Homo sapiens: one gene and its partner. The protein of the gene in region 1 interacts with the protein of each later gene in a pairwise test. Each region holds a gene or a part of one and is shown in the gene's direction. Other genes may lie near its edges.

Region 1 (7,173 bases):
TCCAAGTCCTTAAAAAAATGAGTCATTATAGAAACAATCAAGATTGAAGAAAATCTTTGGGAAGGGCATAGTGAGTGGGAATTGAGAAAGAATTATGGTCTCCTTCATTTTGATTTCTTACCTCCTAGCCCTTCTTTTCCCAATCCAGTTTTCTCCCCAGAGATGCTTCACATTCTTTGTTCAGGCCTTTTCACTTCTCTTCCAGTCAACACAACCTTCACTTCTTTTACAGGTCACCTCCTCCTGGAAGACTTCCTGAAATGATTCCCACTTGTCCTTCAATCTGTCAACAGAATCCTCCCTCACTCTTCCCCCGTCACTGCACCTTTAAAATTTGGTAATGACAGATTTAGGTTGATGATGGATACACTTTATCTGCCTTCTTACACACCCTAATTCAGTAATGCTAAATTTTGTTGATGATGGATACACTTTACCTGCCTTATCACACTTCCTAAGGGCAGGGACCATGACTGTCCTGTGATCAGTCTCCCAAACTCCTCTATCATACTTATCTCTCCCTCTGGAAAGCTTCTAAAGACTAGTGGGGCTTTTAAAAGCATGAGGATGTTGCTAATATGGAGGAGAGAGACTGAAGGATAAATGAAAGGATAGAAGAAAAAAATGAAGAGAAGGAAAAGAAGGGATGGGTCAAGGCCTGTCCCACCTCTGACATTCCCTAGTGCCATGCATGGGTATCAAGCTGTCACACTCCACAACACCACAAGTAGGAATCCTGGAAGGAGTTGGAAAGGGGTGGGAACAGTTATTTAGGAGACACCTACATTAAGGAAGGAAGATGTGGATCCTAGCAGAGAGACAGGATCCCGTCATGGTCAACTGGATCAAGCCAAGCCAAGCTGACACACGTAAAATCACATCCACCCTTCTGGCTCTCTGGAAATAGAATGAACTCAGTGGTGATTAGAGCATCAAGTATAGAGTTGTTAGGGATTCTGGAAAGGGAGGGAGAAGGTCTTGAGAAGTGAGATGTTTCCAGGCAGAGTCTGTCTCCAAATGCCTTTTCCCTTACTGGTGTCCTGGAACCATTAGGTATGAACTCATTGTAACCTGGACGTAAAGGTTGAGCTGATGCTTTGTTAGCAGGAATCCTCACCATCTGGTTATGGAAGGCAAATGACAACTAGTCATGAACTTCCTAGCCAGACTGAGCACCATATGTCTTATAACACCTGAGCGTTTCCCAGCACTATGCCTGGCATCTGCCAGTGAGGCATGACTATTGGTTGAGAAGGATAAGAAGGTCTAAGCAGAGTCAATCAAATGACCCTCTCAGGTTGTCCAATCAGTGTAATGAGCAATTCAACAACTGGACCTAAGTTTATTAAGGCTGACTGTGTGCCAGGTGCTATTCTAGGTGCAGGGAAAGCAGCAGCAAACATGAAGGTTAGGTCCCTGTTCACTCACCTTCTATTGGACAGAGACACATCAAAAGTCCATAAATAGATCACTGCAGACAGTAATAAATAGCATGAAGATAATAAATATGGGTAAAGAGATAGTGAATACCTTTGAGAAAGACCACTTGAGATACAAGTGGTAAAAGAAGTCCTCTCTGAATGTTACCTTTGGGTTGAGACATGAGTGAGAAAATGGAGAAAGCCATGTGAAGCTCTGGAGGAGCAGGGGCCCAGGCAGAGGGAACAGTGAGTGCAAAGGCGGTGCAGCCGCACCAGCAGTGGCTCGGGGAACGAGAAGTAGAAGGCACTGCAGCCAGAGCACAAGGAGCAAAATGGAGTGACCAGCCCACATGAACAGCCGTCATTCAAGACCATGGTTCTCCTGTTAGCTAAACACTGCAACCATCTGGAAAGCTTTTAAAAGTACTGACACCTGGGACCCACCCCCAGGGTGTCCGTTTAATTGGTCTGAGGTGTCACTTGGGCATCAGGAGTTTTAAAGTTTCCCAGATAATTCTAATGTGCAACTGAAGCTGTTAACCGCTGACAAGCCCATGAGGGCCATAGCAAGGCACTTGGATTGGTGACAATTGAGGTTCTTGAGGAGTCTCAGAGACATTTCTCCAGTACTTCAAGCCCAGATCCAAAAAGATCCTGAGAGGCCTTGGAGTTGGGGATAAGCCAGGACAATGAAGGAAAAGAGATAACATGAGACTGAAAAGAAGGTCAAGAGAGGCAGAGACATCCAGAAAATATGACAAACTGGAAGGTGCAACAACACAGAAGTGCAAACAGACTCAGAGAGTCAGAGACTGGAGGAGAAAAGGCAATCTTGTGTATTAGTTTCCTATTGATACTGTAACAAATTACCACAAACTTAGGAGCTTGAAACAATACACATTTGTTACTTTATTATTCTGTAGTTCAGAGTCTGAAATGGGTCTTACTGGGCAAAAATTAAGGTGTCAGCAGTGCTAGGTTCCTTCTGAATGGTCTGCTAGAGAATCCATTCCCTCGTCTTTTGCAGCTTCCAGAGGTTACCCACTTCCTTAGCTTGTGGCTTCCTGCCTCAGTCTCCAAAGCCAGCAATGTCAGGCCGATCACTTCTCATGCTGCTATCTCTCTATGCTACCTATCAGAGCATAGAAGTGCATCTTTTACAAAATAGATTTCAGTCACAACTGTAGTCTTATGCTTGGGTATCTGTGTGTTTTATGAGCACTGAGCCGGGAGGGTTGTTCCAAGATGAATGTACGTGTGTTTGTTTGTGTAGGTTTGTTTATCAGGGTGTCATATTTGAGTGTCTCCCCGATAAGTATGGGGGAGGCAGAAGAAGAGTGCCTGGAGGGGGTGCCTAATAAAGTCCTGCTGCTCCATAAAGACTTACTGCTGTTATACTGTTATTCTTATTAATAATAAAACTGATGATAGAGTATCTGTCTCTTTGCCTGTTTTCTTTGAGCATGTCCGTCTGTTCCTAAATAATACTGGACATTTATCCCAGTGATATTCAATGCATATGAGGCTATTCATACACATTATATTTAGCTGTGATGTTTGTATTACATGAATGCTTCTGTCTGCAAGTTTGTGCACATTTGGGCATTTGGACACTGATGGATGCAGACACATGTTATATAACAGTGTGGGTGATCATAGTTGTAGACATCTGGATGTTTACTTATGCACAAACCCCCATGAGTATCCAGTTAGCTAGGCCTGGCATTGGAAGGGTAGAGAAGCTAGGAAGAGGAGGGAGCAGGGAGGAAGAGGAGAGGTGGGGAGAGGAGCAGGTAAGGAGAAAAAGAGAGAATGGAGGTGAGGAATGAAGGCACAAAGGAACACCAGAAAAAAATCAGGAAGCAGGAGGGGGTCCCAGGGATCTGCAACTGAAAAAGGCAGGGTTGACTCACAGCAAGAACACAAGTCAGAAGACCAGGGTAGGGCTCCACTTCTGGTCATTCCCTTGCTATGTGACCTTGGCTATTCCAGTTCTCTGGGCCTCTGTGAACTACCAGAGTTGAAATAGATAATACCGGGTACATTCCAAAGAAGGAAGGAAAGAGAAAACTGGTAATAAAATCACACACGGGGAAAAACAGAGAGAAAGAACCAGAAAGAGAGACTTACGAAGAAAGTAAGGAGAGGCCCTGGGAGCTGGCCAGAGGTAGAGCTGAAAGAGCTCTGCCCCGACTCCCTGAGGCCGAAGTGTGGGCGCCTGCTCCCCACCCCTTACCCCAGAGCTGCAGAATGCCCTTAAGCCCTTAATAGGTAAGGAAGGAAGATGGAAAGGCGAGAGGCACCAGGAATGAAAACCACACATCAACACTCAGAGGCTTGCCAAAGCCACACAAACCAGGATCTGTGCTTCCGGCCCCCAGCCCCCAGATGTAGGTGTGCCAGCCACCTGGAATGACTCGCACCTTGGCAATGTGGGCGCACATGCCAAGAGTGAGCCTGGGCACCCGGCCCATGCGCGTACCACAGGCGGAGGGGAAGGTAAAATTGGGGCTCTTCGGGGGGTCACAGGGGGCTACCCTCCCCACACAGGGCTACCCCGCCCCAGAGCGCCCTCTAGTGACCGCCTCCTAGGCTCTGGGAACCAGGTGTGCTATTCTCCCCTCCCTGCTCCCCCAAACCTTACCCGGGAAGCAGGAGAACCAGATGAGGCGTTACGCAAGGCCTGGTGTTTACCTCCCGTGGGAGCCTCCTCCCTCCCTATAAAGCCTGATGTGGTGGAGAGATTTGACGAGACTGAGACTCTGGTTGAAGAGAGAGGCAATCCCAGGAGAGGGGCGGAAAGCGGCAAAAGTTAATGCGGGAGTCGGAGAGAAGGGCATCTACACAGCAAGCAGCAGGGGCGGCCCGCCATCTGCGCGCTCGAAGGCGGTCACGGTGGTCGCGGAAGGGGCGGCGTCCAGATCCTGGCTTTCCATGGATGCGCCCGAGCTGGGCCCGGGGCTGGTGGAGCGTCTGGAGCAGCTGGCGACGTGTCCTCTGTGCGGGGGCTCCTTCGAGGACCCGGTGCTTCTGGCGTGCGAGCACAGCTTCTGCCGCGCGTGTCTGGCCCGCCGCTGGGGGACTCCGCCGGCGACCGGCACCGAGGCTTCCCCCACCGCCTGTCCCTGCTGCGGCCTGCCGTGTCCCCGCCGCAGCCTGAGGTCTAATGTGCGGCTGGCGGTGGAGGTGCGAATCAGCCGCGAGCTGCGAGAGAAGCTGGCTGAGCCTGGGGCCCGTGCGGGGAGACGCCGAGGGGGGCGCATCCCCACCATGGGCTGCCTGGACCTGCCCGGAGAGGTGAGGCTGGGCGCGCGTCGCGGAGTTGTTGGTGGAAGCGGGAGGTTCCCGGGGAAGCCGGGAATGGCACGTCTGGAGCCGGAGGCCCTGTGGAAGTTTAGGCAAAGGATGGGGTGGGGAGAGAAAAGCAAAGGATGAGGGGGCGAGGACCCTGGGTCCTCAAGGTGAGAGGCGCCCGGAAGGACGATGGATGGAGTTGACACTTGGTCCACAGGGGAGGAGGCTGGACCGATGCCTGAGCCTTGTGAGAGGGGCTGGAGAGAAGAGACTGGGGAGGCAGAGAAGGGGTACCGGATAGAACGCGGAGAGCCCTGGAGTCGCCGCGAAGGGCATGGGAACTGCAGAAGTTTTGGCAGGGCAGCCGCAGGCGCCCGGGAGGAGGAGAGCTGGCGGAGGGGAGGGAGCGGCGGGCGGAAGGGAGAGCCGACCCAGCTGAGGGTGAGGAGGGGTCCTGGGAGGATGGTGGGCGAGGGCAGAACCTGCTTAGAGGAGCGGGAGCAGGAGGCTGGGCTGGTGGGTTGGGGGCGGAGAAAAAGCTGGGGAGGAGGGGACTGACAAGAGGATGGAGGAAGGGAGCAAGGGGTTGGGGCATATCCAAACCTCCCCGTAGCGTCGTGGGGGTTGGTCTCGGACTCTGGCTCAAGCTAAGCCCTGTGTTGTTTGTTATTGTTATTTCGGCTCCTCCCAAGGCCCCAGGCAGGAGCGGCCAGGGGTGGAGGCGAGGTGCGGGAGAACAGCCGCTGGGGCCTCTGGCTCCTCTCCACATCCCAGTCTTACCACCCATCTACCCCCCGCGCCTCTCCTGGGCCCCGGCTCCTTGGCCACTAACCAGCCCATTCCCTTGCCCGACCGACCCCTGGGCGTCTGGGACTCCTGACTGGCTTCTTCCCAGCAGCCAAGCTGGTCTTGGGTCTTGCTTCTGCCCTTTGAAGTCTTCATAGACCTAATTAGTCTGAAAGTAATTGGCACAATTATGCAAATTGTTTCTCTCTCCCCCGCTCCACCATATCGGCCTGCTCCAGCCATCAGCACTAGACAGTGAAGTGGAGGGGTCGGTATCCCAGTGTTTGGAGGGGAGCATCCAGTGCCCTCTCCTGGCTCCCATAGTACTCTGTGGATCTGCTGGGCCTTTTGGGACACATTCAAGTCTAGCTGCCTCCCTGGCCAGGGTCCAGAGACACAAAGCAAAGGGCCCAATAAATGCCACTGGGCTTTTATTGCAAGAGGGGAAGCAGCTTTATTGTAAGGCTTTTATATACCAACTCTTAGCCCGAGGGCTCTGGGTGTGTGTTTGGTCTGTGTGATGGAGGGAGGAAGGGACAGATGTTTTTCTGGGATGCACTGGGGAAGGTAGATAAGGATGGGGCCGCTGAAAGAGACAGAGAATGGGACTGAGGAGGCAGCAAGGAAGGCAAGGGCTCTGAGGACAAGAAACAGTCACGGACGAGCCTGGGAAAAGAGAATTGAGAACCCTTGGGGAGTGGAAAGGGGGAGGACAGTGGGGATGGAGTTAGGAGGATGAGGGAAAAGTGATGGGGTGAGAGGAAGGAGGGATCATGAAAGGTGAAGGAGGAGAATGAGAGGGAAAGGAGCACAGTGTGTAAAGAGGTGAGATCACTCTGAAAGGTGAGGAGGGACACTGCTAACTCAGACAGAACTCACCTGAGGAGGGGAGAGATAGGGAAGGATGCCCCAGGGAATGAAGCCCAGAGCTCACATCCATGTTTGTTTCTGCCCATCCTAGGATATGAGGAAGACATGGAGACGGTGAGTTCCACTTTTCTGTTCCCTCCTTTTCTCACCAGCTGCCATAGCCATCACGTTCTCACTGGGCCCACACCTTTGTTCCCATTAATAGGCAGGTTTTCTGGGGTATAGTCTCATCCCTTCTTCCTCCAGAGATGTGAGTGGGGTATGCGTGGGGGCATTAGGATCAGAGGGCTGATTTCCTGACCCTTCCCCTCATCTGTGTAGATTTGAAGTCCCAACATCCAAGTCATCTAATTCAGAGGATGATCTCCCTGAAGATTATCCAGTGGTCAAAAAAATGCTTCATAGACTGACAGGTAAGGAAAGAAGAAGGGAGGGAAGGGAATTGAATGAAAGTCTGTGTTAGATTTTCTTCCTTTTAGCCCTAAAAAGTGATCAGGTCCTTTTTGATGTCTGCATTAGTTTCCTAGTACTGCTCTAATGAAGCACCGCAAAGTAGGTGGCTGAAACAACAGACATTTATCTCAAAGTTCAGGAGGTAGAAGTCTGAAATCAAGGTGTCAGCAGTGTTGGTTCCTTCTGACGGCCATGAGACAGAATCTGTTCCATGCCTGTCTCCTAGCCTCTGGTAGCCTCACATGTTCTTTGGGTGATAGGTCTGCACATTTTCTTTTGTATGCATTTGTCTCTGTGTCCAAATTTCCTCTTTTTGTAAGTCAGCAATCTGGATTAGAGCCCACCCTAA
Region 2 (7,027 bases), on another chromosome or scaffold:
AAGTATCACTAGTCATATAGGTTATACAAGTATTAATTACAGAATATTGAACTTTTTCTCCTCCCTCAGACAAATGGTTTATCTACTATTGGAGCCATGGGTCCTGGGAATATTGGACCACCCCAAATAGAAGAGCTCAAAGGTAAGTTATTTAACAAAGCAATATAGATCAATATAATCTTTTCCTTGGTAGAGAAATTATAGGGAGAGTAATAAGTACTAATACTAGTATTTATTAAGATGAACTAAATAACAATGTATTGTATACTTGGAAATTGCTAAGATAGTAGATTTTAAGTATTCTCATCACAAGTAAATGATAAGTAGGTGAGGTAATCCATATGTTAATCAGCTTGAGTTAGTCATCCACTGTGTATACATATTTCAGAACATCATATGGTATATCATAAATATATACAATTTTTATTTGTTCATTAAAAATGGAGAAATGAATAAATAATTTTTAAATAGAAAAAAGATGAACTAAAATAATCATGGAAATGATGAATAGCCATTTACATATAAAGATGCTGTTTTTACTCTACCACTGCAGGTAAATAGTTTTTCTAATAATGGAAATATATTTGCCTTGAATTATCCACATTCCTTGCATATTTTCTGAGATAGAAGACCAAGAAAGTCACGTGTGGTTAGATCATTTTTTATTTTTTAAGGTCTATTTACCAAGATGCTTAGCTTCTTTACCTTCTACCTTCCTATATTCTAGCAATTTCATGGAATTCATTCATTGAATTGTTTAATAAATATTTATTGAGAACCTATTGTATCAGGCAGTATGACCATCTCTGATACTACAATGCAGATCAAAACAGAAAAAGTCCCTGTTCTGATTGAGCTAATAGACTTTTGGAGAAGACAATAAAACAAATAACTACACAATTTTATCTTACATTAAGAGGCTTATACATTAACATCTTTGAGTTTACTTATAAAAAAAAGTCCAATAAATAAGGCTAAATAATATTTTTACATTTCCCCAGCATTTTGAGCTATACATTTTTACAGAGTTGAACATTTTACAAATCTTTAAAAATATAAAAGGCTCTAATTCTGTTGGTCATGATCACCATTAACCAGAGGATAGGAAGGGAGAGGAAGTGAATTTCATTCATCAATTTAGTTAATTGCAAAAGATTAATCTGGACAAATGTTTAAAATAATGGCTAAAATGAGGTCTAAGGATGGTTTTAAAATTTCAGTTATTATTGCTATACATACTCAAGAGGCTATTTGCCTTACCCAAGAGATATTCGCTCCATGGCAGTCTAATTCACATTTCATGTATTTCTGTGCTGCCTGTATTTCTGATAATGTAGGTCTAATAATCTTTAAATTCTGAAGGCAATGATTCATATGTAAAATGTTATATATAAATCTGTAGTTAGGCTTTACAAAGCCCGTGCTAGATAGAAGCTGATCATTTCAAAAGAATTGCCAGAATTGAAAACCTAACAATCGGGTGCATTTCTGGGAATGCTTAAAATGACTCAAAGCAGTGCTCTGCACCTAATGCAGGTCTCCACCGGATGCTACAATAGTTAAAACAAATGTGAGCTGGGTTTTTGCATGCCTACTGGAGCCTATCCATTTTTAAACATTTAAAGATGACATGCAGAAACCCAACCTCATGCTCAGCTCTGCATGAGGAAAATGCTGGACTAAAAAATGATCATTGTATCCACTGCTTTCAGTTTCTTTAATTGATATTATTGAGAATTATGTCATGCTTGCATGGAAAAGATATCAAAGCGTTTTTATATAGTAAAAACAATGCAAGATAAGACATTTCTCTCCACATCAGATTGATTGTAGTTGTAATTTTTTCTTTTATATAAAAATATTTTTAAATATAATCCTATTTATGTTTCTGGAAAAATGTGTAATATTTCTTTGCATATGTATATGGAGAGAGAGAGAGAGAGAGACTGGAATGATACACAACAGAATACTAACATTGATTATCTCCAGGCAGTTGGATTGTAGATTATTTTCTTCTTTTTGTTTATGTTTTTGCCAAATTCTCTACAGTTGTTATTAAAATTCTACAATGTATTGGTTCTGTATTGATAGAAACATTTAGTCAGTAGTTACTAATTTAGTTTGTTTTGATCAAAAAAAAAAGCTAGCGATTACAAATAATGTTTTATTTCAATGAACCCAAACTGAGTGTGAAGAAGAACAGGAGCAATTTAGAGAAGGAAAAAAGCATGAGCTTCAGCTTTATCTTCCCTTTCTTCACAGTCATCCCTGAAACCAGCGAGGAAAATAATGAGGACATCTGGAATTCAGAAGAGATTCCAGAAGGAGCAGAATATGATGATATGTGGGATGTTAGAGAAATCCCAGAGTAAGTCAAATGAAGCCAGGAATGTCTTTAGGAGTTTAAGTTAGCTGTGTCATCTGATAACATTTTACTTTTTACAAGATTCATAAAGTAACATACCACATAAAAGATAAAACTACAGTGACACACGGAAGGCATGTGTAATTGATTATTTTTTTCCTTCTAGAGCAGAAACAAATAATAAAGCATAACACCTTCCTTTCAGTTACTATCTAGCAAAAATGAAAAATATAGTCATTTCCATTATAAATTTATATTTAATGTCAATTTGTTGTATAATGTGGAACTAGCAGTTGGAGAAAGCCAGCCCATTAAATTGCAAGCATTCATACAAACTAAATTACAATGCCATGTTTATTTGTCAAGCACTTGCTTTTAATTACTCAATGTTCCACAATTTCGGTAAAAGGCTATGTTCTCTCTCCAATTATCAATTATTACCCAGACTTGTTTACTAGATATTCTAAGATTATATTTAGTGTTCAGTGTATTTTGCAAGCAGGGTTCAAGACTTGCTTTGTAGCCTTTTCAATACAATCAAGTTGTAAATATGAAATTTAGAATTATTATAAAAAGCCTTTTATTCTGATTTTAAAAGCACTCATACTTTTAAGAACCTTAAAATATATTTATATACATAGATTAAATTATTGGTCAAATAGACTAAGCTTTACATATGTGTATTTTGAAATAAAATTTGGATTGACTATTTAGAATAGCAGGAAAAATAAAGCCAACACTTACTAAATTATAATGTACTATATAAATTCTTAAAGACTTCTATGGCAAGTGATCTGACAACTTTTCTAATACTGAATACAAAACTATCCAGTATTTTTTTTTTTTTTTAGACAGAGTCTTGCTCTGTCGCCCAGGCTGGAGTGCAGTGGCACAATCTCTGCTCACTGCAACCTGCGCCCCTCCTGGGTTCAAGCAATTCTCCTGCCTCAGCCTCCCATGTAGCTGGAACTACAGGCACCTGCCACCACGCCCAGCTAATTTTTGTATTTTTAGTAGAGACGGGGTTTCACCATGTTGGCCAGGCTGGTCTGGAACTCCTGACCTCAGGCAATCCGCCCGCCTCAGCCTCCCAAAGTGCTAAGATTACAGGCATGAGCCACTGCGCCCAGCCAAAATTGTCCAGTATAAAACAAGCAAATAAACAAAAACTCCATGCTTCTGCCTTCTACATAAGTTCTGAAAACAGAAGCAGTGGGAGACTGCAGACAATTAACTAGAAAGAAGTATCCAGCTTTCAAATAAACAATGTCAAGACCATAAACCTCATAAAAAATCAAAGGAGATTTTAAAACATTTCTTAGAGAACGAAGAGAGTAAATTTGAAGTTATGTTTATATAGTGTCCACGTATCATATGAAAAGTAATAATTAAGTCACTTATTTGTCATATTGTCTAACAAATGTCAAATATCCATATGCAGCAAACTTCAAATTTGAGTAATTTTTCCCTTTTCATCCTGATGTTTGATGTTAGGTAGATAGAACATCCATGAAAGCTTTAAATGAATAATAACTTCAGGTTATTATGAGGAAAATTGCTTTATAAGATTTTAAAAATCTTCATCTTCTACCTTATGAAAATACATTTCAACATTTCTCAGTGGATGCAGAGGAAAATAGGTAAAGAACATGAACAGGCAGTTCAAAAAAGAAGAATCACAAGTGGCCAAGTAAAAGAATAACAAGGAGCTGAGCTAAGGCACTGGCCTTGGGGAGAAGTATGAGGGTCTTTATTTGAGTGAGTTTTGGATGAAGAGTTGGTATTTGGTTAGATAAAATGGATGAGAGGAGAGCGTCAAAGATGATGCTGAAGTTATTAGCTTGGGTGACTGAGGAAATGATAATGCCATTAACTTTGATAGGAATTATAGGTTAAGAAGAAGCAGTGAGTTTGTTTTTGTTTTCTTTCTTTCTCCCTTTCTTTCTTTCTTTCTTTCTTTCTTTCTTTCTTTCTTTCTTTCTTTCTTTCTTTTTCTTTCTTTCTTTCTTTCTTCCTTTTTTCTGAGACAGAGTCTTGCTCTGTCGCTCAGGCTGGAGTGCAGTGGTGTGATCTCGGCTCACTGCAACCTCTGCCTTCCGGGTTCAAGCGATTCTCCTGCCTCAGCCTCACAAGTAGCTGAGACTACAGGTGCATGCCACCAGGCCTGGCTAATGTTTTTTGTGTTTTTTGTAGAGACGAGGTTTCACCAAGTTGGCCAGGCTGGTCCTGAACTCCTGGCCTCAAGCAGTCCACCTGCCTCAGCCTCCCAAAGTGCTGGGATTACAGGCCTGAGCCACAGTGCCCAACCAAATTTGTTTTTTTTCTTCGCCAACCACCGCCCCCCCGGCCCCGCCCATTGTTCACTGCAGCCTCAACCTCCCGGGCTCAAGCAATTCTCCCACCTTACTCTCCCAAGTAGCTGGGACTACAGGTGCACACTTTATTTTTGTGAAGACTGCGTCTAACCGTGCTGCCCAGGCTGGTCTCAAACTCCTGGACTCAAGCAATCTTCCTGCCTCAGCCTCCCTAAGCACTAGATTACAGTTGAGAGCCACCATGACTAGCTGGTTTTTGATATGTACACTTTGAGTTGTCTTTGGGACATCCAGGCAAACCTTTGTAGTAGACAGTTGGAAAATTGCGTCTGGAGCTCAGGATAAGAGCAGGAGCTTGAGCAAATCCATTAGGAGCAATGAACATATAGATCAATCCTCTGTTTGTTTTAACCTGGCTTCACCTTCATAAATAATTGGTAGATGTTATAGCCTATTAAGAGAAAAGTGCCCCATAGCAAATAGCTGCTTATTGTTAGCCATGTTCAAACTCAGAGAAATCCCTTTTTTATTTTTGGGCATTCCTATTGGCAAATGGTCAGAAGTTCAATCAAGTCCTTTAGTCTTACTATCCAGAGATCTACAATTTCTTCATTAAGGTAGCATTAAGCATAATAATAATAATAATAATAATAATAATAATAATTTGTAAATATTTGTTTCATTCTATCTGAAGAGATGGGGTACCTTGTGGTGGGTGCTTCTATAAACCATTGTATTCCTGGAGGCCCAAATTTGGAGGGAGGAATGATTTGTGAATTGTCATGTGTGGGGTGAAATATCAGGAAAACCTTTCATTACACTCAGAATTCTGTAAGACTAGATTCTAAGCACTATGGTGTAGCTGTGCTGACTACATTACCAGTGTTTCTATTGTAGAATTTTAGCCGTGGAGATCATTCAGTTCAAACTCACCCCTCCCTCCCATAAATCATACAAATGTAGAAACTGAGACCCCATGAGTTTGTGACTTGACCAAGGTCCACAGTTAATGACAGAAACAGTACTAAACCTGAATTTTCTCCTCTGCTCTGTGGTTTAAACTTGGCAGAGGAAGGTTTCTATCAATCCCTAGGTTATGGACTCAGTATTTTTCTGAGCTATTGTTTTTCAGGAACAGACTTTCCTTTTTTTTCTTCTGCTTTTAATCTTATTAGAATCTTATTACAAGTTCCCTCAATCTATTTTATTTGTCTAGCTCTGAAACAGTTAAAGCTTTATTTTAGAAAATAATAACAATCCTGCCTTTCAGTGTTTATTTTGACCACATTTCTAGACTTCTTTTCCTTTATGTTCTATTATATGCCTGAAGACCTGCAAGCACTTTATTTGTTTAGTCCTTTTATTTTACCTAATAGCATATCCTCATAAGTTACTAGTTTTCTTTTCTGTGACAGGAAATTGCTCTTTCATCTGAGTCCCTATAATCATTGATTTTTTTTCAGGTATGAGATTATATTCAGACAGCAGGTGGGAACTGAAGATATATTTTTAGGGTTGTCAAAAAAGGACTCCTCAACAGGTTGTTGCAGTGAACTAGTGGTAAGCCTCTCCTCCCCTTCTTCATTTTCTATACAACCATTGTAGCTAAATTGACTGACTATTATTTACATAATATTGTAGGCAAGGTTGTAAACTCTTTAAAAATCGTGGTTGCTATGTTTCACGTACTAGGGTAACAATGGGATAGACAGTTTAAAATTGTTAACTTGTACAAAATAAACTAAGTTTACACATTTGGATGAGATTTACAAATAAACATAATGGAATCATATGACACAATACACAATTTCTATTTTTATCCCTATTAAAACTTCCCAATTGGATTGGACTGGATTTTCTTCCATCCTAGTTCCGTCCCATGCATGCCAACTGATTGGTTATTAACTTATGATGAATTGACAGGCAATCAGAATGAAGTATCTCCTTCCCCGCATCTGTCTTATCTCTTATTTCTGTATTTCTCGTAATGACTCAGCTTACAATGTGGGACTTAAAAAGGGATTTTCTTAATTTTGGGATCTGACTTCTGATTAAAAACACTAAGAAAGACATCTAAAATGTTACTTTGCTTTCTTATCTGAATGACGCTACCGAATGTTGGAGAGCATCCTTTACCAGGTCACTGTTTCTGTATAACAGTTGTGGCAATACCAACAATATCAATGATACCACCTTACTTTTGCTTATTTCATCCTGATAATGACCTTGTTGAAAAATCTGGGCCTAACCCAGAGTGTGGAATTTGATTCATTTTAGCAACATTAACAAGTAATTCTTGTGTTAAAATTTTATTTTTTGAGATCAGGAACTTTGCTTCTATTTTTTT

Evidence for each region.
Region 2: the proteins of RNF39 (region 1) and DNAAF6 interact in binary tests that used the Homo sapiens proteins (3 or more experiments, as listed by UniProt).

Annotation. Positions count from the first base shown.
Region 1 is NC_000006.12:30,072,768-30,079,940, reverse strand, and holds the start of RNF39 (RING finger protein 39), read left to right. Parts: upstream 1-4,171; 5' UTR 4,172-4,355; coding exon 4,356-4,718; intron 4,719-6,462; coding exon 6,463-6,485; intron 6,486-6,692; coding exon 6,693-6,784; intron 6,785-7,173.
Region 2 is NC_000023.11:107,216,602-107,223,628, forward strand, and holds part of DNAAF6 (dynein axonemal assembly factor 6), read left to right. Parts: intron 1-69; coding exon 70-142; intron 143-2,262; coding exon 2,263-2,368; intron 2,369-6,143; coding exon 6,144-6,240; intron 6,241-7,027. UniProt on the Homo sapiens protein: Plays a role in cytoplasmic pre-assembly of axonemal dynein.